Regions from separate parts of the Homo sapiens genome. Here regions 1 and 2 are each reported to be linked to region 3. Evidence: microRNA targets listed by miRTarBase, many of them from high-throughput screens and not tested one by one. Region 3 holds a microRNA gene; each other region holds the end of a gene's coding sequence.

The links. The annotated mature microRNA hsa-miR-877-3p reads UCCUCUUCUCCCUCCUCCCAG and lies in region 3 at 2,305-2,325, opposite strand. An mRNA with a match to its seed (bases 2 to 7 or 8) in the 3' UTR can be bound and repressed. Matches are read on the target gene's strand: a 7mer-m8 pairs with bases 2 to 8, a 7mer-A1 pairs with bases 2 to 7 and ends in A, and an 8mer does both.
Region 1: the mRNA of CWC22 is a reported target of hsa-miR-877-3p. The part of its 3' UTR that is shown has no 7-base or 8-base seed match.
Region 2: the mRNA of NIPA1 is a reported target of hsa-miR-877-3p. Seed matches in the 3' UTR shown: 7mer-m8 at 5,746-5,752 and 7mer-m8 at 2,136-2,142.

Annotation. Positions count from the first base shown.
Region 1 is chr2:179,938,642-179,945,840 of GRCh38, reverse strand. CWC22 (CWC22 spliceosome associated protein) reads left to right here. Exons shown (of 20, transcript NM_020943.3): 20 at 126-965. The coding sequence ends at 712. Among named protein-coding and RNA genes, the nearest start is that of CWC22, 65 kb to the left of the region's middle.
Region 2 is chr15:22,822,875-22,830,065 of GRCh38, reverse strand. NIPA1 (NIPA magnesium transporter 1) reads right to left here. Exons shown (of 5, transcript NM_144599.5): 5 at 277-6,338. The coding sequence ends at 5,827. Among named protein-coding and RNA genes, the nearest start is that of NIPA2, 12 kb to the left of the region's middle. RefSeq lists an enhancer at 2,425-3,177.
Region 3 is chr6:30,579,523-30,586,721 of GRCh38, reverse strand. MIR877 (microRNA 877) reads right to left here and starts at 2,390; the gene lies at 2,305-2,390. ABCF1 (ATP binding cassette subfamily F member 1) reads right to left here. Exons shown (of 25, transcript NM_001025091.2): 7 at 6,717-6,791; 8 at 6,203-6,316; 9 at 4,215-4,328; 10 at 3,534-3,656; 11 at 3,014-3,114; 12 at 2,832-2,917; 13 at 2,391-2,530; 14 at 2,156-2,304; 15 at 1,379-1,462; 16 at 1,040-1,164; 17 at 731-843; 18 at 417-588; 19 at 174-248; 20 at 11-81.

The DNA.
Region 1 (7,199 bases), not on the chromosome of region 3:
CAATTTGGCTTTGCACCTAGTTTATCTGAGTTAGTAAACCTACACTGTATCAGTAAATGTGATTGTTATAATTATGAAATTAAGATTGAAATAAAAGCTAACTGTCTTTTATTTTACACACGCAGCTAATGATGTAAGAAAGAAGGGACATGGGAAGACCAGAAGTAAAGAGGTAGATAAATTGATCAGAAACCAGCAAACAAATGATAGGAAACAAAAAGAAAGAAGACAAGAACACGGGCACCAGGAAACAAGGACTGAGAGAGAAAGAAGGTCAGAAAAACACAGAGATCAAAATTCAAGTGGTTCAAATTGGAGAGATCCTATAACAAAGTACACATCAGACAAAGATGTTCCTTCTGAACGAAATAACTACAGTAGAGTTGCGAATGACAGAGACCAAGAAATGCATATAGATTTGGAAAATAAGCATGGTGATCCCAAAAAGAAGAGAGGAGAGAGAAGAAATTCTTTTTCTGAAAATGAGAAGCATACACACCGAATTAAAGACAGTGAAAATTTCAGAAGAAAAGATAGATCAAAGTCAAAGGAAATGAATAGAAAGCACTCAGGCTCAAGAAGTGATGAAGATAGATATCAAAATGGTGCCGAGAGACGATGGGAAAAATCTAGCAGATACTCTGAACAATCCAGAGAATCAAAGAAAAATCAGGACCGGCGAAGAGAAAAGTCTCCAGCAAAACAAAAATAATTCTACAAAATGACATAAACTGGACATGCCTTATATTCAGTTGAAACAAATTATTTTTTACTTTGACGAACTTTATAGAGAATTCTTGTATAAAGTATTGGTTTGTATTTGTAAATTTAAAAAATGTTTTCATTTTAACATGTTTTATAATTGATACATCTCAAGGCCCTACCCATAAAATTATTTGAAAACTTTCACCAGAAAGGGATGTAAGTCTCGCTTATATTTTGTGAATAAAATGATCAAAAGCTCATTGATTCAGTGATGTTTTTTCAATTGACAAAATATTTTTTTAGTTGTTTAAGAAGCTGTTATAGTGAATTATCAGTGCTTTTTTGTTTGTAACTGAAGACCAAAACAGGTGAACCTTTTCAGTTTAACAGTTTTGCTTTGTTAATGAGATGTTATGAATCTTTTTCAGGTAGTCACTTTTTTTTTTTTCAGTAGAGGATTTGTTACAATTTTCATATTAGGCTTTGAACAAAGTATGTAATGTGTAATTTTTTTCACAAGTGTTGGTAAAGCTAGGTGTATGTTACTCTTTAAACCAATACGCAGTTATTTATAATTAGAACTTCTCCCACAGGAAATATTTCTTCTCTCTGGACTCCTTGATATCATTTAATTGAAATTCTTTGTGATTAGTGCATTTTTCTCAGCCTTGAAGTTATATCACTGTTGATGAATTAATGTGTATTTAATTTTTAGTTTAGGTTAATAGATCATTGGAAAACATATAGTTGTGAAATATGCAAGCAGCCTAAATGTAATTTCAGTTTTTTATATGAATTTTAAGGGTTTCCATCATTGTAACTGTTAACTGATTAATTAATATGACCACATTAGTTATTACTTTTGAAATAAATATTTCCTCTAAGATATTAGACTTGCTGACAAACATTTTAACTTCCTTGCTAAATATAGGCTTCTTGTGTTTGCTCACCTTAAAGGTGCATATAGTTCATTTTAGCCAATGTTTGGTTTCAGGAATAGTGGGACCACCATTTTAATGTTTAGTTTTTGGGCATATGCTGATTCAAAATGTTTCCTATTTTTGTTGTTTAACTTGAGTATAAATAACAATAAAATTCATGTAAAGAAATATCCGCTCCTTCTCCCCACCAACTCACAAAAAGCATTCATTCGAATGAGACAGCTTGGATAAATTCCTTTTAGTGTTTTCTCCCTTTGTGGTGGTTAAAATTTGGTGTCATTGGAAGGGACCATCATGGACAGTGCATTCCACAGAACTTACAAGCTGAGCAAATTGGATTTAACAAACATGTAGGCCATGAGCCCTAAGGGAAATAGTTTTTTTTTTTTTTTTTACCTGAACCCTCATCTTCAGGGTTGGTAAAAAGGAAAAAACAGTAGACTAGAAATTTTAGTTTATTTTCTACACTTTAACCTTAGTTCATGACTTTTACATGTAAAAATGGGAACCCATTCATTTTATTAAGTGCTTAAGACCTTAGAGTTATTAGATTATTTTTAAAATGTTATTAATATGTATTAATCTTCTACTGTTTGCTCAGGTTTGTTTTAGGTACTAGAGATAAAACAGTGAACAGAGTCTCTACTCGTTGAGACTTATAGTTCAGGGGAGGGAAATGGTAAACAAAGACAGTAAATAAATAAATATATGATATATCCAGTAGTGGTAAGTGCTATGAAGAAAAGTAAAGCAGAGAAAGGCGAGACTGAGTGATTGGGGGACAGGGTGTATAGACAGAGCAGTTCTTTGATGAGGTGATGCTTGCCCAGATATCTGAACAGAGTGAGGGCTTGAGACATGTGGATTGCTTGGGAAGAACCTTGTAGGCAGAAGGAACAGCTGTAATACAGATGTTTTTTGACAGCAAATATTGCCTGGAAATTTTTGTTAACATTTCCTATTCTACTTAACTTGTGTTTTGTCTTGTGTGTGTGCTCCTCACTATGTTCTATACTCTTATACAAGCAATTAATACCTAACTACCTCTAGCAGAAGTATTTTGAGTATAAGTGAGTTATATCAGAAGCAGAGACTAGAAGCTGGATTGAGGAACTATTCTGTTCTGCTTTGAAAATGCATTTCTGCAGCATCAACTATGATGTATTCACATGTACTGTCTGCCGCTCAGGCAGATTTTTCACCTTCACTCTTTTAATGTGTAAACAAGAAACATGTTGCCTATGTTTGCTATTTCTATATTTTTACACTATTTCAGAGTTAGTATTTTTTAAGGATCAACTGAATTCTAGATACTTTGCATGCTCATTCCTTTTCAGGTTCTCAATTTCCTTGCTTCCAAAGTTCTAATTCTACATCCCTAGCTACCTACTCCCATTGTCATCCCCGTTAGGTTGGCTTTCAAATCATACCACCTCTGAAATCCCTCCTTGAAGCATCATACTTTGGCCACTTCCCAACCAGTTCACCTGCTTTAGTACCACTATTCTAGAAATCCTTCACCTCAGCAAACCTTCTGATCCATTGACTTTGTTACAATCAGTTACCAATCCCCACCCCAGCACTTCTTTACTTCCCTCATTCCGTGATCTATCATTCGAATAGATAAATGAACAAATAACGAATTTAATTCTTTCAAAACAACCCCATGAGAATTGGTATTGTCTTCCTACATCACAGAAGAGGAGACTGGAGTCCAAAGAGACTAATTAGGCTCAGGCCACAAAGTTGATAAGTAGCAGTATTTAACTCAGATCATCTTCATTCCAAAGCACAACTGGAGGATGAATAAAAGCCAGAGAGAAGGATTTGAGAATCAGCTCTGTCTCCTAGCAGCTGTGTGAACTTAGGCAAATTATTTCACTTTTCTGACCTTCTGATTCACCTTTAAAATACTTTTGTCTACCTTACACAGTTGTAGTGATTATTATATGAAATAATGAAGTCAAAGGCCCTAGAATACCATGTAACACAGTGGGCATTTAGCAGAGTTCTTTTTCATAGCATACAGCAAAGATGTGGAAGAAAATTCAGGCTCATCAACTGGTTCATTGATTGCTTCATTCCATCTGTAATGCCATTTATAGTTGAAAAAAACCAGAATCGTGTTAAAGTAGCACAGCAAAATGAATTGATTGTTTTGGAGTTAAGGTGTGACAGAGTAATTATCCATCACTTCTATCATAGTACCTGTTTCCCAGATGTACGTATCCTGTTAGCTCAAGCAACCTACTTCCTGTGTCTTATACCACTACTTCACATTTCTCAAATGTATTATCAGAAACAAAGGTTTTGGCTATCCCAGATAGTTATGAGTGAGGTTTTTATTCTTGACTTGCTTTGTTTACACCATTTTGATTTTGACTTAACTGACGTGTAATCCCCCCCCCCAAAAAATTCATAGATTAGCAGATTAAAGTCTTCCCCATAGATTTTTTTAGAATCCTGATGCCTTTGTTTTCCAATCCAATTCTCACTTCTTCCAATATAGTCAAATGTCTTTTCTGTCTGATCTTTCAAGTTCTTTCATTCTGTTCTGTGTATATTCCACGGAATATTTATTCAGCCAAGCAAACTTTAACACCCACTGATACTTTAGGAGAGAGCTCAGAGTGCCCAATGTGACATCTTGGAAACCTGTTCCCTTAACATGGACATTTTCACATTACACACTTTGAAACACTCATTGAAACATCTCCAAATGGTGTTCCTGGCTCTCATTGTGATGTCTTGTGTCCCCTCAACCTTGAATATGCTCTACAACTTCCATTTATACTCACCCACATATTACTAAACCTCATTAAAAACCTCTGAGTCTGTTGCATATCTCCAATTAGAACTTCAGTTTCTTGAAGTTGGTTAATTGCATCTATGCATTTTATGTTTACTAGACATAAAAATGAAGACAAGTCTCTACCACTCCCACCTTCCCCTCCCGCCACCCAAAGTTCATGATTTATGGCAAGAAACTAAGCTATTGAGTTCATCTCAGATCATCTTAGGCACAGGTAAGAGGCAATGAGATAACAACCCAAAGTCACACAGAGGTGTGCATGTCCGTGTATTTACTGCGGAAAAGAGCACAAGTTCCTGTGGCTGAAATGGAGGTATCTGCTTTTAGGAAAAGACTCAGATTTCATATAGGGTAACTTAGTACCATTTAATTTGAATACTATTTGGCAACTGCAAATTAAGTCTGACTGGATTTTTAATCTTACCATTACCCCTTTCTGGCTGTTGACATTTAGGCAGGTCTTTGAACCTCTTAGTTTTTTACCTGTACAATGGTACAATTATAGCACCTCCCTCAAATGGTGGGTGATCTCTGTGGCATACTTAGTGCCTGCAACTAAGTGCTCAGTGTGCTATTATTGCTGTTACTGGTTTTATTCTTAACCATTTTCATTAAAGCTGACATAATACCATTAGACCAGGAATTGCAAACTCTAATACCTACAGGGGCCAGGTGAAAATCACAAATGAGACAAATTGGGTAGTGAACTGGAGTCATTTAAAGGCAGCACCATTTACTCAGCTTCATCCAATTCTGCCTGTTAAAATGAAGACAAGGTTGACCATCTCCCTGGTATTTGAAAGAATTAAATAATCCGAATTTTTATGGAGCTTCTGATTTTTAAATGTTGACTATTAAATAGGCCAGAATTAAGCTGTCCAAACAAAATGATCTACAGGCAAACTAACTTTACAGTAGCTAATTTGTGACTCCACTCTAGACCCTCAAAAACTATTACTTAATTTTGGAATGGCACTGTTAGACATAGAAGGTCATTTTTTGGTTTCTGCTCCTCATAGAGTGGGAAGATAAGGTCCTTCATCTTTCTTGAAACACCTTTTACTTTGCTAACCTCAGTAATCCCCGCTAGCTAAATTGCTCTAAAACTTTTGTCAAGTTTTAGTTCTGCATTTCATTGGCCTACTCCCTCCTTGTAATCCAGGGATGTAAAATACAATTCGTTTTTCCTAAAATCTGCATATTTTCTAATCTCCTGCAATTGGTTCCACCAATCTCCCATCACCTGAGTTTTCATTGCTAGTCTATATCCAAATCACCAAATTGCTTTGGAAAACTTTGGCATGCACCCCTATCTTCCCACACAAACTGCTGTCACCATAGTTCTGGCCCTTTTTACTTTTTCTTTTCTGTTTCAACTGTTAGACAATAGTTTATTGTTTATCTCTGCTGTGTGTCATATACTATGCTAGTTGCTGAGGATATAGCCATGAGCAACGGGGACCTCTTCTCAGTTGAGCCTAAATTATTACAGGAGGAAGCAGAAAATAGTCAAGTTTTTTAAAAAATAAAAACTTATACTTTGAAAAATGTTAGCCATTCAGAAAAGCTGAGAGACCACTTAGGTATCATCTACCTAGATTCAGATTAATCGAAAGCATTATTTTCATCTTGTCACTGCCTTATACATTGAAGCAATGACTCTTCCAGCCCATAGGATAAATGTAAATTTCCACCCTGTTACTTTAGTTTCTTTAAAGTCCAAGTTCAACCTGTGTTTTCTTAATGTTTGCTCTAGGAGCTGCCATCCTTTAAGCAAGACGATGTGACAGGCTTGTCAGTGTCTGATTTTTACAGGAACAACTGTAAGGTAAGAGATATCCCAATTTTACAGCTTGCACGCTGGTGTTTACCCAGCTAAGACATGGCAGAGCCAGGACTGCATCAGCCACGTGATCCCGCTTGACAAATGAAAACGTTTTTTGCTGATTGCCTTGCTGCACAAACACTGCTGGACAGGGCTGGTTATTTACTGTCCTGAAAAGACATTGTTCTTTCTCATCTCTGGATGTCTGCCTCCAGTGTACCCTCCACTTGAAATATCCTTTTCTGTTTGCCTATCCAAATCTTTCAAAATTCAGCACATCTTCCTTGCTACTCTCATAAAAGTAAGCAATTCAAGCCCCATGTGTTAAAAGACCCTGTAATCAGTACTTAATGCATTGTGTATTGAGATCATTTTTATCATTTATCCTTTTTTTAAAATTTCAGCTTTTATTTTATTTTATTTTATTTTTTTCGAGACAGAGTCTCACTCTGTCGCCCAAGCTGGAGTGCAGCGGTGTGATCTTGGCTCACTGCAACCTCCGCCTCCCAGGTTCAGGTGGTTCTCCTGCCTCAGCCTCCCAAGCAGCTGAGATTACAGGCATCTGCCACCATGTCTGGCTAATTTTTGTATTTTTAGTAGAGATGGGGTTTCACCACGTTGGCGAGGCTGGTCTCAAACTCCCGACCTCATGATCTGCCTGCCTCGGCCTCCCAAACTGCTGGGATTACAGGCGTGAGCCACCCTGACTGGCCTCAGCTTTTATTTTAGATATGGGGATACACGTGTAGGACTGTTACATGGGTATGTGAGACCCAGGTAATGAGCTAGTACCCAATAGGTAGTTTTTCGACTTATGCTGCCATCCCCATCCCCTCCCTCCCCTCTCTAGTAGTCTGTGGTGTCTATTGTTCCAATGTTTATGTCCATATTAGCTCCCACTTACGACCGAGAAATG
Region 2 (7,191 bases), not on the chromosome of region 3:
ACAGATGTGCACCACCATGCCTGTCTAATTTTTGTTATTTTTTAGTAGAGATGGGGTTTTACCATGTTGACCAGGCTGGTCTCAAACTCCTGGCCTCAAGTGTCCCACCCGCCTCAGCCCCCTAAAGTGCTGCGATTACAGGCATGAGCCACTGCACCCAGCCTAGGCTACTCATTTCTAAAAAGAGAATAGGAAAAATGGGAGGAACTGGGATGATCTGGAACCTGAGACTACATAAGCATTTCAAGTAAAGGGAAAAAAAAAAATCAACAAATGTTCAGCTAGAAATAAGTTATTTTATTTTAAAACACATACAGATTAATAAATATTACTGGAAAACTTAATAGCCTTTTTATTTACATGAGGCAATAACAACATGCTATGACTACATCTATAAAGCAAAATATAAGCAGGTCTTGGCCACTGACACATGTGTCTATGTATGCTAATTGGAAGCTCCCCAATACATGTCTATGACAAAACTTTTACACAACCAATCAACATTTGACATTTTTTACATCTTCTTCCTCTCATGATTATATTCCATTTTCAAGAAAATAATAGTTATCCTTTGAAAAGGCAAAACGCTCAAGCCACTGAAAAACAGTATCTAAATTTCTGTAAAGTGCAAAAATACTAAGGTGGGGGGCAATTATTATATTCTGACAAATAAATATTCTGAACTTTTCAACATGACCCTTTGGCACTAGTGGTTTGGGAGCCCTGACATTCGCCTGGTGTCAGTTCAGCATCAGGGTTGAGCTGCTTGGAAGCAGGAAGTTCAGCGTCATTTATTACAAATCCAGTGCAACAGAATCCACGTGTTTCACAGGCCATTAAATCTTTTTCAGAATACAGACCTCGGCCGAATGTCAGGAGCACATCACACCATCGGAAGGTGATCTTTCTGTGCGGCTTTCTGAAGTCCCTGTTTAATTTCCATATTTTACAATAGAACATATAAAACCCTTTCTTTTAAAACAAAAAAAGGAAAACTAAAGCTTCATGGAATCATGCAAACTTTACACCCAGCACTTCCTTTGCTTTCTCAGCGCATGAGGCTGTGTGTCCTACAGCATGGTCCTGAGCAGACTCCATGGTCCGTGCAAGCGGAGTTTCCACTGTGCCACTCCCAGGCACTTCTGAACACGGTGCTCTCATCTCAGGCCACCAGAACACTGCTGAAAGTGCCGGTGTTTTAGAAACAATTTGAAGAACCATCCCACCCCTTTAGAGGTAGAAAAACTGAGGCACAGAAAGGTTAAGAGACTCACCTATGTTTGCACAATTTAGGGAAAAATAGAGAAAAGAAGAAAAACATCCTCCTCCCTGGCTCATGCTCTGGGCCCTGGATTCTGCTTTTTAAATGCTTTTGGGTACATGTGAAATAGATGTTTATTTACATGATCCTTGTTCTACTGAATATCAACTTTTTACTAGACAACATATTTTGATGTAACAAAGTTACATTTTCTTAAAATATAATTATGTTGTTGCACGTGAGGAATGTGAATGAAACAAATGAGTCGTGGTAGTGGGCCAAATTCTCACTGCTGTTCCTGTAATTCTGAACCTTTTCAAGTATACAATGGAGGTATAAGAATCTGGCCAGATGTGAAACATCACCTATAAGCTAAAGGACAGACCCTTAAAATTCATCACCAGTACAATTGTGAGGTGGAAATGAGGAATACAAAAAATTGAGGTATTTTATATGATAAACTGTCTTGTGGTGTGACTGGTGTACAAATTGGTCTTTTCTTTCCAACTCACATTAACAGAATCTACCTATGAATATGAGTAAAACCTATGAAAAATGAACACGGATATGTCCTTGGGAGGAAGGTCACTGTTAAGGAGTCAATGATACATTTTTGGTCCCTGAGAAGGCAAAACACCAAGACTCCATCCAATCCCGCCTGATGGACGAACAACGCCCTCGGTGTCAGACACCATGAAAAGAACAACTTCAGAACACGGAAGCTAATCCATGCTGTCGGGAACAGACCTTACACTGAAATGTTCTCTTTCTAGTTTCCTGCTTGGTGGCAGGAAGCCTAAGTCAGCATCGAGCAGGTGTCAGGTCGAAGCGGCACAACGGGAGGGGCTCTGGGAACCACCGGAGTACTCTCTCCCCTCTTCTGGGTTAGCTGAGCAGCTTGAAGAAGAGGAATCCCCCGACCAGACAGAAGGGCAGCAGCCTGTGCCCATCACACCTGTTTCCACGGACCAGGTGTCCGTGCACACCTGGGAGACACTGCATCTCCAAAGTCTAGAACTGGCCCCTAGAAGTTGAGCACAACATTTACAAAGAGCTGAGTCATCTAGGAAGAAGGAAAATAAGACGACTGCACAAGTGAACAGTGCTCACTTCTACCAGAAAACAGATGTGAAATCCAAAGAAGAACAAACACCAACATATTACCGCTGGGATGAACTTCTGGAAAGACAACTGGGTGTAGTAAATTGGCTTGAAGAGCAGGAATTGAAAGAATATTCCTTATTGCTGAACAAAGAGCTGCGAAGTATATTCACTAACATTCTGATAGGAAAAGATCTCAATGAGAGCTGAGCAAGGCCACCAGAATACCAAATTCCTCCCCAAAGTCCCCAGCATGGGCAGGGCCTCACTCCATGTGGCACTGGAAGGACTTCCCTCCCCAGCACCTTCTCCACAGAGATGGCATGGTCCTGCCAGCCGGGAAGATGCTCCAGGGGGGCTTTGTGGTGCTGGGTTAGGGTTAGAATCCTTAATTGGCCCTACCTTTGATCAATGAGCAGAACAGGAAGCAATCCTTTCAAATGCAAATATTCAGAGGAGAAAACAAGGCATTGCCCAAGAAGAGGAGAGAAATAGCCTATTTAAGTATCTATCAAGAGAAATCTGCATATTGTGATCAAAACCTTTGATTTTAGAGGATGCTTGAAAACAAGTATACAGTAAGCATCTTTTTTTTCAAAGAATAGTATGATAATGAAAATATTTCAAGTACATGTACTTTTGGAAAGACCACTAAGAGATCTATCCATGTTCTAGGCCCTCCCCCAAAGTTCTCACTTTGGGGCTTTTTCATTTTCAAATGAATGATGAAAACATAATTTTTTAAAATAAATACTATCAAATCAGAAGTTATATGCTCTATATTAAATTTGAAAATTAGACTGTTCAACCACTGGTCATGTCATTTACTTTGAGGCTGGTGTCACGTGCTTGAAAAACAATGGATGATATGAACTTTGTTTCACTGGAAGAAAAGCTATGTATCCTACTGAAGTATCTGCTGAACAGAGGTAAACCTGAAAGATTCTAACTGTCCCAGGACCAGTCACCTTCAAGGGTAGAAGAGCTATTAATACTTTTGAGATTTTGTTTTACTCTAAGAATATTATAGAGAAGATCATCGGGTATCACCTCTCAGTATCAATGGTATAATTGTGGATTAAAATATACTAAGGTACACCAAGAGCTGCCTTTAAACTAAATTTCCCACAAAAGCTGTAGCAACACAAACATGATCATTTTCATGTGACACATGAACTTTCTCATTACACTTGTTAGCCACATGTATTCTTTGAATATCTCACACCCCTTACCTAGGAAACTATTTTTATGCCCAAAAGTATATTGATACTGCTACATTACGTTTTCAGAAAGTTCAGTTCAGTAAGTTAAGGCCTGCATTTCTAAAAGCACTGATGATAAAACACAAAACCTGCAAGAGCCAATAAAAAGAGTAATGGACTTTGAGCATTTGTTAACCATCCATTGAGAGGATTTAAGATTTTTAAAAAATAATGTTGTTGCTGCTCTCAGTTCACAAATCACTGACAACCCATGATCATCATGTACACGTTTACTCCATAAAGGTATTTTTCTCTCTATATTAAACTAGTCTCATTTTATTTAGCCTCTTTACTCAACACTTTAGGAAGCTATTCCTTGAGACTTTAGAAATGTTCTTTTTGCCTACAAAAACACATTTTTTTTCTTACTGAGGAACTTTAATTGGGTACTATTCAATTTTATGTTCTACTTCACCTAATCTACTTTACCCAACCCCATCTTTCAACTTGGCGTAGTTCCCTGCTGAGATAAAACACTGGCCATGAAGTACATGATACCGTGGTGAAATATGTGCATCACTTCATGCTATGCTCCCATTTGGAACACATGGATGGGAACACTATAGACAGAGAATGACCTCTTTGATTCAAATACTGGCATAATTAATGGCTCTTTTGCATTTAAGACACATAATGAGAGGTTAGCTGAGGAACTCTAGGATGCTCTGCCATTGCAAACAACAAGGAGATGGCTACATTTATTGGCTTTTTGTTAGAAAATCTTTCAAAAACTGCATATTGCAATTTGTAGAAGCTAGCCTAACCTCAATTGTGTCCTTTAACTTGTTCCTGTATGACAGGGTACTCGATATATGAGCTATTGAACAGGTACTCTCCCACTTAGCCTTATTATCAAGTTACCTAATTTATTTCTTCTGAATGGCCATGAATGCTTGCTGATAAAGAATGTGGATATATTTGATACTGGATCCCAGGTAACACAGATCGAATACAAATAAAATAATACCTCATGCTACTTAAATCAACTGTCTTTAATTGGACAATAATCACATGTTAAAGGGGTCAATTTGCTCTAATGTGTCTTTAGTCTTGACTATCTTCCAGTGAATATACAGTCATGAACCACGTAACCATGTTTCTGTCAAAGACATACCACTTACATGACGGTGGTCCCATAACATTGTAATACCATAGTTTTACTGTACCTTTCCTATGTTTGTAAACACAAATACTCACCACTGTGTTACAATTGCCTGCGGTATTCAGTGCGGTCACATGCTGTACAGGTGTGTGGCCCAGGAGCAACAGGCTGTACCATCTGGCCTGGGTGGGTCATAGGTGTCCCATCTAGGTTTGTATAAGTGCACTCCATGATGTTCACACAATAAAGTCACCTTACAATGCATTTCTCAGAATGTTTCCCTATCATTAAGTGACATGTGACTGTATTATTTCTAACTGCCTTATACATTTGTAACTTGAATATTGAAATATTAAAGCATACTCGAAGTTGCATTATTCTAATCTAAGAACATATACACATTAAGAGTCAAATTAAGTTAATAATTCAAGTGATAAAGGCACTGAAATTGATTTGAGCTATTGAAAAGTCATCCTGCCAGTGGAACACTACCTCATGTTCATTAACTCTTCTCTCTCTCTCTATTTACTATTAAAATGTCTTGGGTGGGGGTGGGGGTCGAAGAGTCAACTTGTCAGAGGATTAAAAACAATTCAATGTATATGCCTCTTATTTGGATGACATACTTGAATGTTATACATGCTTAATGCAAACTAACACAACTACAGACACATTCACTGTACAGTGCCAGAGTTCAAGACAACAATCTCTCATTCCCAAAGTAATCTAAGTAAAAATATCTCTGCTATCATGTAACAACTAACCAGAAAGAGCCCATCTTTTTCTGTTTAAATAATGTTAAAATGTTTTAAAAGAAGAGAATATTCATGAAAGCTTCCAGGTTAATGGAAATGAAAATGAGATTCGTCTCATCAGAGAGAGATGGTGCCAGGCAACCGTTGGGGACGTTTGGGCTGCAGAGGGCTGGCTGGGCCTCTGCTCTGGTGCTGAGCCATGCTCCCCGCTATCCACCAGACCACCTGTTACTATCCAGTCAATTCTAACACCATGATCGAGGACCTCTTCTACTTCACATCCAATCACGGCCAGAAACCACCTCCAATGCCTATTCCTCGAACCATCCAAGCTCCTATTGCAATCTAGTCTGTTTTCATATTAGATTTGTTCATCTCCCCAAGGTTGAAATTGAACTCTTTGAACACCTGTATAAGGACAATCCCCACGGAGACGGTCGTGAATCCACAGGCCATCCCCAAGAAGTCCACCAGGCCCACGTTGCTCCACTCCCGGAAGAGGATGGCTGAGGCCAGCAGGACCAGCGTGGTAAACACGACGTAGTAGATGGCCCCGAACACCGAGGAGTCGAAGCACTCCAGCGCCTTGTTGATGTACCTGAACTGGACGATGATGCTGCAGCCGAGCACGGCCAGGAGTACCAGGCACAGGCAGAGGGCTCTCTGACTGGACGGGTTGTTATGCAAGATGTCTTGGGCCGCCAGCCCGATGCCCTTGGTGGAAGGCACGGTGAAACTGCCCAGCAAGGAGCAGATGCTGATGTAGACCATGATGTTGGTGGGCCCATGGGCCGGCGCGATCCAGAAGATGAGCAGCAGCAGCATGAGCAGCACGATGCACAGGTAGCCCACAAACACTGGAACACAGACAGCACACAGTCACCCGGAGCCACCGCCTAGCAGCCGCAACCCAGGAGGTGGACTGGGGCAGCACCCGGGCCCCCACCCGCCACCCGCCACCGGCCTCTACTGCGGCACAGCCCTGGGGAGCATGTGGGCTCTGGCTTGAATTTACCAGACCCACTGATTTCATTCCACAAAAGTATTCCCATCATTTTCACTGTTAAAACATTTACAGCCGGGTTAGCCAGACGCGGTGGCTCATGCCTGTAATCCCAGCACTTTGGGGGGCCAAGGCAGGTGGATCATGAGGTCAGGAGTTCAAGACCAGCCTGGCCAAGATGGTGAAACCCCGTCTCTACTAAAAGTACAAAAATTACAGCGCGCCTGTAATCCCAGCTACTTGGGAGGCTGAGGCAGGAGAATCACTTGAACCTAGGGGGTGGAGGTTGCAGTGAGCCGAGATCAAACCACTGTACTCCAGCCTGGGTGACAGAGCAAGACTCCATCTCAGAAAAAAAAAAAAAAATTTACAGAAGGGCACAATGGCTCACACCTGTAATCCCAGCACTTTGGGAGGCCGAGGTGGGCCGATCAGGAGATCAATACCATCCTGGCTAACTTGGTGAAACCCTGTTCTCCACTAAAAATACAAAAAATTAGCTAGGCGTGGTGGCATGCACCAGTAATCCCAGCTACTCAGGAGGCTGAGGCAGGAGAATCGCTTGAACCCGGGAGGCAGAGGTTGCAGTGAGCCGAGATCACACCACTGCACTCCAGCCTGGGCGACAGAGCAAGAGTCCGTCTCAAAAAAAAAAAAAAAAAAAAAAAAAAAACCATTTACAGCTCCTAAATGTTTACATGGTCCTC
Region 3 (7,199 bases):
CAGGACTCACCGGTGTCAGCTTGCCAGTCAGCAGCAGGAGTAGCGTACTCTTCCCCACACCATTAGGGCCCACAATGCAAACTGCAAGATGGAAGACAGGTGGTCAAAGAGGTCCCCAGAGACTCTCCCTGTGGCTCCTGCTACACATCCCTGAGGCAACCCCGCCAACTCACTCCTTGAATCCATGTCGATGCCAAAATCCAAGTTCTTAAAGAGTGGTTTCTGTCCCTGGTAGCCGAATGTCACACCTGAAAGCCACGAAAAGAAGCAATTTATATTCTTTTCAGTCCCTGCAAAGTCCCTCTCATGTGCTGGCCTTGGAGAACAGGAGCAATCTCAGCCTTGGTGGAGAATTTAGGGTGCACATACATGCTTCCGGTGCTTCCTGTGGAGCAGCAGAGGCCCGCGGCACTCACCATGCAGACCCAGCACTGGAGGGCTGAGTGGTGGGGGGTCTGGAAAAGTGAAGCGCACAGTGTACTCCTTAGGGCGCTTCAGGAGCTCAGGGGCCTCCTGGGATTCCTCATCTTGGTTTTTCCGTCGGCATTTCTGCTGCTTCCGAGTCAGGGCTTCCTTCGTTTGTTTTTCCTGGAGAGGAAGAGGAAAAAAGAGAAACCTGAGCCCTGCGCGGCAGTCCTTGAAATGTAGGCCAGCGTTCCAGAGTCTCCTTCTTCCTCCACTGCCAGGAGAGAACAGTGGCCCCCAGCCCAGAAGTCCCTCAGGTGCTCACCGCCTGCTTGGTGGACTTCCCGCCTGCCTTCAGCTCCTTCAGCTTTTTCTCTTGCTTCTCATACTGTTTCAGCAGTTCTTTCTGCTTCTGCTGGTACATCTTTTTGAAGGTCACTGGGGCAGAAGAGGGGACCAGGCATCAGTGGTTGCTCCTCTTCCCAGCAAAGGGACAACCAGGGACTGGTGGTGATGGGGTAGGCATCACTGTCTGGAATTCTGACAGGATTCAGTTTATCTAAATAGGCCCTCCCACTCAGGCCTCTTTTCGAGGTTCTATCTCTTCCCTGCATCCACACACAATCCTACTTACTGTAATTGCCCCTATAGTAGTGGAGCCGCTGGGCATCGAGGTGGATGATATCAGTGCAGACATCATCCAAGAAGCCCTGGTCATGGGAGACGATCAGCAAGGTCTTCCGCCAGCCCTGGAGGTAGCTGGGTTTCAGAGAACAGGGTGTAAGTGTCACAGTGGTCAAGTGAGAGAGAATTCAGAGGAAGCAGGCAGACAACGGGGGCTGGGAGGGAAAGGGGGGTCTGAATAGAGCTCCACTCACAGGCACAGTGGAGAAGGGCTAAAGGAAAACAGGGCAGGGAGGGAAGGGGAAGAAAGTGCAGAATGGGAACCAATGATGCAAAGGCCGTAACGCACTTATTAAGCCAGATGACAGCGTTGAGGTCCAGGTGGTTGGTGGGCTCATCCAGCATCAGCAGTGTGGGCTCCATGAACAGTGCCCTAGAGGGTGGGTAGCAGAGGGCAGGGTCAGGGAGAGAAAGATCCTTGCTCAGACAACCCCAGAGAAAACTCGGAGATAGAGCCTGAGACCATGAACACTCCTTCCCAAGCTCTCCTCAGAGAAGTTCTCGGGCAGGATACGGTTTAATTTTTTTGAGACAGGGTCTCGCCCTGTTGCCCAGGCTGTCGTGCAGTGGCACAATAAGGGCTCACTGTAGTCTAAATCTCCCAGGTCTAAGTGATACTTCTACTTCAGCCTCCAGAGTAGCTGTGACCACAGCGTGCGCCACCATATCCAGCTGATCTTTAAATTTTTTGTAGAGACAGGGTCTCCCTATGTTGCCCAGGCTAGGATATGTTTTCTTCCCCCTTTTGTGAAGATAGAGTCTCACTATATTGCCCAGGCTGGTCTCAAACTCCTGGGTTGAAGATAATCCTCCTGCCTCTGCCTTCCAAAGTGCTGGGATTACAGGCGTGACCCATTGCACCCAGCTGCAGGGTATGTTGATGAGAACTCACCACCAAGTAGGGAGATAAATAGAGAAAGACCCTAAGTTCTCACAACACAGATAGTAAGGAGGGAGAGGTAAGCCTTGAGCCTCCCTATTGGCCTTGGAAGAATGAGAAGGGAAAGAGGAAAAGGGCCCCGGTGGTCTGAGGCTGGAAGGGAGGGCAGTGAGGTGAATGGCCCACCTGGCCAGGGAGACACGCATGCGCCAGCCCCCTGAGAACTTCTGTGTGGGTCGATTCTGCATTTCAGGGTCAAAGCCCAGGCCAGCCAGGATCCGCCGTGCTTTGGCCTCTGCAGCTGCCGCCCCAGTGGCCCGCAATTCCTCATACACCTGGGAGGAGGGAGAAGAGGACACACGTCTGAGGGTCCCAGGAACCCCCAAGTCTTTGCCCGTGTCCCCTGCGCCATCTCCTCTACCTTCTCTAGCCTCTCAGCAGCTGTGTCATCCCCTTGTTCCAGCTGTCCCTGAAGCCGCCGCTCCTCTTCCAGCAGCTTCAATCGCTTGGTGTCAGCTCGAAGAACAGCCTGGACTGCTGGTGTCTCATCTGCTACCACCTCTGGGAGGCAGAGGGAGAACAGTCAGGCAGCCTCAAGAGCCAAGAGTCTCATCTTTCTTTCCCTTCAATTACATTTCTGTTTTGCCTGACCCTGCCCAGCTCTTTGTACTTGTTCCAAATAAAACACTCTCAAGTTCCTCATTGACCCTCCCCTCCTTTCCTTAGCATCCCTTTCCCGGTCTCCAGTCTCCCTCCACATCCCTTCCAACTCCATAGCCACAATTTCTTCTATTCTTGGCTGGCTGGCTTTTCTACCCAACTGCCCACCCCACCAAGCCCCTTTTCTCCCCAGTGGTCTCACCCTGCTCACACAGCAACACATCAATGTTGGGAGGGATGCTCAGGGCTCGGTTGGCAATGTGCTTGAGGAGTGTGGTCTTGCCCTTGCTGGGGAATAAAAGCTATTAGGACCTGGCCACCACTGAGAAATCTCTTCTTTTCCCTCCAGGCCCTTTTTTGCCTCCAGCTCCCTCCTCTTCTCACCCATTGGGTCCTACCAGCCCGTAGCGGCGGCCGGCTACAATGTACAGGTCTGCATTGACGAACAGCTCCTTGCCATGAGCGGAGATGCTGAACTTCTCCAGCTGCAGCCATCAGGAAAGAGGTGGCAGAGGGAAGGGATGATCACATGAAAATTCTCCCTTTGGGACAGGAGCGGCCACTTTCTCCCTGCAGGGAAGCCTCTGACAAACCGCTACCTCCAGCATAATCCCCTTCCTCTCCCCACAGCCGGTCCCCGCCCTGTTCGCTGCCTGTAATGGGAGCCCCATGCATCCTCAGCTAGTCTAGTCTGTCCCACACTATTTTCTGCCAAGGGTGGACCCCACTTCTACTGGTTTTTCTATCTTCTTGCTCAAGTTGGCAGAACCTAAGGTGTGGAAAATGCCTCCAATCTTTCTTCCCACTGAACTAACCCATTCACACACCACAGCCACTCAGGGAAGATGAGAGAACTGGCTCTTCCCTAGGTAAGTGGACTGGAAGGGGCCCCTTGAGACCTTACCTTGATGTCAGATGCATTTTCTAACATGGCTTGGCGGGAGGACATCTCCGCCTGGGACACGGAGAAGTCATTTTCAGCTGCATTGGCTGCTTTTAATGAAGCCACTTGGCGCTCATACTCCATCTGAGAAGGTAGGAAAAACTACATTTGAAGCCACAGTCTACCAGTTTCCCATCACCATGAAACAGCCCATGCTGGCTGGGCATGCTGGCTCACGCCTGTAATCCCAGCACTCTGGGAGGCTGAGGTAGGTGGATCTCTTGAGCTCAGGAGTTTGAGACCAGCCTGGCCAACATGCTAAAATACTGTCTCTACAAAAAATACAAAAATTAGCCAGGCATGGTGGTGCCACCCATAGTCTCAGCTATTCGGGAGGCTGAGGTGGGAGGATCACTTGAGCCTGGTAGGTTGAGGCTGCAGTGAACAGAGATCACGTCATTGCACTCCAGCCTGAGTAACAGTGTGAGACCCTGTCTCAAAAAATAAACAAAAAACCCCAAAGTGAAACAGCCCATGTCATCAGACATTGAGATAAGGTTCACAGAACACAATTATTTTCTTACTCCGATTGTTTTACTTGGAGTAGCCCCCAAACCTTTCCTTCGTGTCCCCAATCGCATGTCCCCTAGTTGAAGTATTTAAAAATCCCCTACTTTTGACCGCTAAGAACCAAGGTCTTACCTGTTTTTTCAGCTTTTTCTTCTCCTTTTTGCTAAGATGAGCATAGGGATCATCTGCCTTAGACTCTCCTCCTTCCTCCTCCTCTTCTTCCCCTTCTCCTTCTTCCTCTGAACCCTGTGAGAACCCGGGGATGGTCAAAACTAGGGACTCCTGGCTGGGCGCGGTGGCTCACGCCTGTAATCCCAGCACTTTGGGAAGCCAAAGCGGGCAGATCCCAAGGTCAGGAGATCAAGACCATCCTGGCTAACATGGTGAAACCCCATCTCTACTAAAAATACAAAAAATTAGCCGGACGTGGTGGCGGGCGCCTGTAGTCCCAGCTACTCGGGAGGCTGAGGCAGGAGAATGGTGTGAACCTGGGAGGAGGAGCTTGCAGTGAGCCGAGATCGTGCCACTGCACTCCAGCCTGGGTGACAAAGCAAGACTCCGTCTCAAAAAAAAAAACAACAAAAAAAAACTAGGGACTCCTTCTAGAACTCAGATTTCACATCATCTGCCCCCTGTCCCTGCCCCAGCTCTTTCCTTCACTACTCAGAGTCCTAAAATATCTTGGGATCCTCTCTCATTCTCATACCCAGCCCCTGGTCTCCCTGAGGTCCTTTATTAATTTCTGCTACCAGGAATGGTACAAGACAAATGGTATGAATGTGTATTTATGAAATGTGACAACGCGTTATGTCCCTATAAATGTAACTCCCAATACAATGTAACTGAAGGTGGAGTAAATGGATTTCAAGAGTTTCATTTGTATAAAATGAGTTTCTGTGGTTTCCTTGTTAACATGCAAAGAAAAGATCAGGTAGCCGTCCGGGCACGGTGGCTCATGTCTGTAATCCCAGCACTTTGGGAGGCCAAGATGGACAGATCACAAGGTCAGGAGATCAAGACCATCCTGGCTAACATGGTGAAATCCTGTCTCTACTAAAAACACAAAAAATCAGCCGGTCATGGTGGCACGTGCCTGTAGTCCCAGCTACTCGGGAGACTGAGGCAGAAGAATTGCTTGAACCCGGGAGGCAGAGGTTGCAGTGAGCTGAGATTGCGCCACCGCACTCCAGCCTGGGCAACGGAGTGAGACTCCATCTCAAAAAAAAAAAAAAAAAAAAAAAGATCAGGAAGCTCTAGTGCACAGTCAGAGGAATCCAGCAGAATCACAGAATTAGGAAGTGCCAGACGCATAGGGACCCTAGAGATCTCCGGACTCCTCCTTCTATCACACAAAGGAGACAAGTGAGACCCAAGGGGATGGGAAGATGTATTCAAGGTCACACAGCCAGTGAAGGCAGAGCCAGGACCCAGATCATCTGAGATAAATTCCAGGCCCTTTCTTCACTGGATTAGGTGTTGCAAACTACAGCCCATGGGCCAAGGCTGACCTGACATTTATTTTTATATAGCTCCTGAACTTTATAAAAATAATTTTTGTATTTTCAAAGAGTTGTTAAAAAAAAAAAAGAATATGTGATAGAGATTGTATGTGGCCTGCAAAGCCAAAAACATTTACTATATGGCCCTTTATAGAAAAAGTTTGCTGGCTGGCATGCTGGCTCACACCTGTAAACCCAGCATTTTGGGAGGCTGAGGCAGGAGGACTGCTTGAGCCCAGAAATTCAAGACCAGCCTGAGCAACATAGTGAGACCTCATCTCTATACTAAAAATAAAAAAATTAGCCAGGGGTAGTGGTGCACACTTGTAGTCCCAGCTACTCAGTAGGCTGAGGCAGGAGAATCTGTTGAGCCCAGGAGGTTGAGGCTTCAGTGAGCCGTGTTCACACCACTGCACTCCAGCCTGAGTGACAGAGTAAGATCCTGTGTAAACAAAAACAAAAACAAAAACAAACGAACCACCACCCCAACTACTCCCCCAAAAAAAGAAAAGAATAAAGGTTTGCTGGGATAATAACTATATCCCCAGATTCTAACTCTCCCATAAGGACCCTGGAAGCCCTAGTCCCTCATTCCACCTTGCCCCAACACCAAATACACACCTGCTCTGCCTTCTTGGCCTTCTCCTTCCCTTGTTTGGGAGGCTCCTTTTCCTTTATAATTTCTTCTTCTTTATCCTCCTCTTCATTGTCCAGAGCAGCGAATTTATTTTGAGGCTAATAGGGAAAAGACAGGTCTGATGAAATGTTTTTTTTTTTTTTCTTTTTTTTTTTTTGAGACGGAGTCTCGCTCTGTCACCCAGGCTGGAGTGCAGTGGCGCAATCTCGGCTCACTGCAAGCTCCACCTCCCGGGTTCACGCCATTCTCCTGCCTCAGCCTCCCGAGTAGCTGGGACTACAGGCGCCCGCCACCACGCCCGGCTAATTTTTTTTGTATTTTTAGTAGAGACGGGGTTTTACCGTGTTACCAGGATGGTCTCGATCTCCTGACCTCGTGATCCGCCCACCTCGGCCTCCCAAAGTGCTGGGATTACAGGCGTGAGCCACCGCGCCCAGCCCTGATGAAATGTTTTAATTCCTGGGCCCCAATACCTCCTCCTGCTAGTTACTCTCTCACCTTAGCCTTCCCTTTTGACTTCTCTTCCTTTCCCTTTTTGCCCTTGAGTGCAGGCTGCTGTTCCTCAGATACGGCCTGGAGGAGACACACATACACATTACACACATACATACAAATTATTGTGCTACTTTGCTGTGTAATAAGCATTTCTAGAGAGTCTACTGTGTTAACCATACACATGCTCCTCCATTTACGACAGGTTGCATCCCGATAAACCCACCAGAAACTTAAATAAAAAATGATAGTTCTTGGCCGGGCGTGGTGGCTCACACCTGTAATCCCAGCACTTTGGGAGGCCAAGGCAGGTGGATCACAAGGTCAAGAGATCGAGACCATCCTGGTCAACATGGTGAAACCCTGTCTCTACTAAAAACACAAAAATTAGCTGGGCGTGGTGGCACGTGCCTGTAATCTCAGCTACTCAGGAAGCTGAGGCAGGAGAATCACTTGAACCCGGGAGGCGGAGGTTGCAGTGAGCCAGGA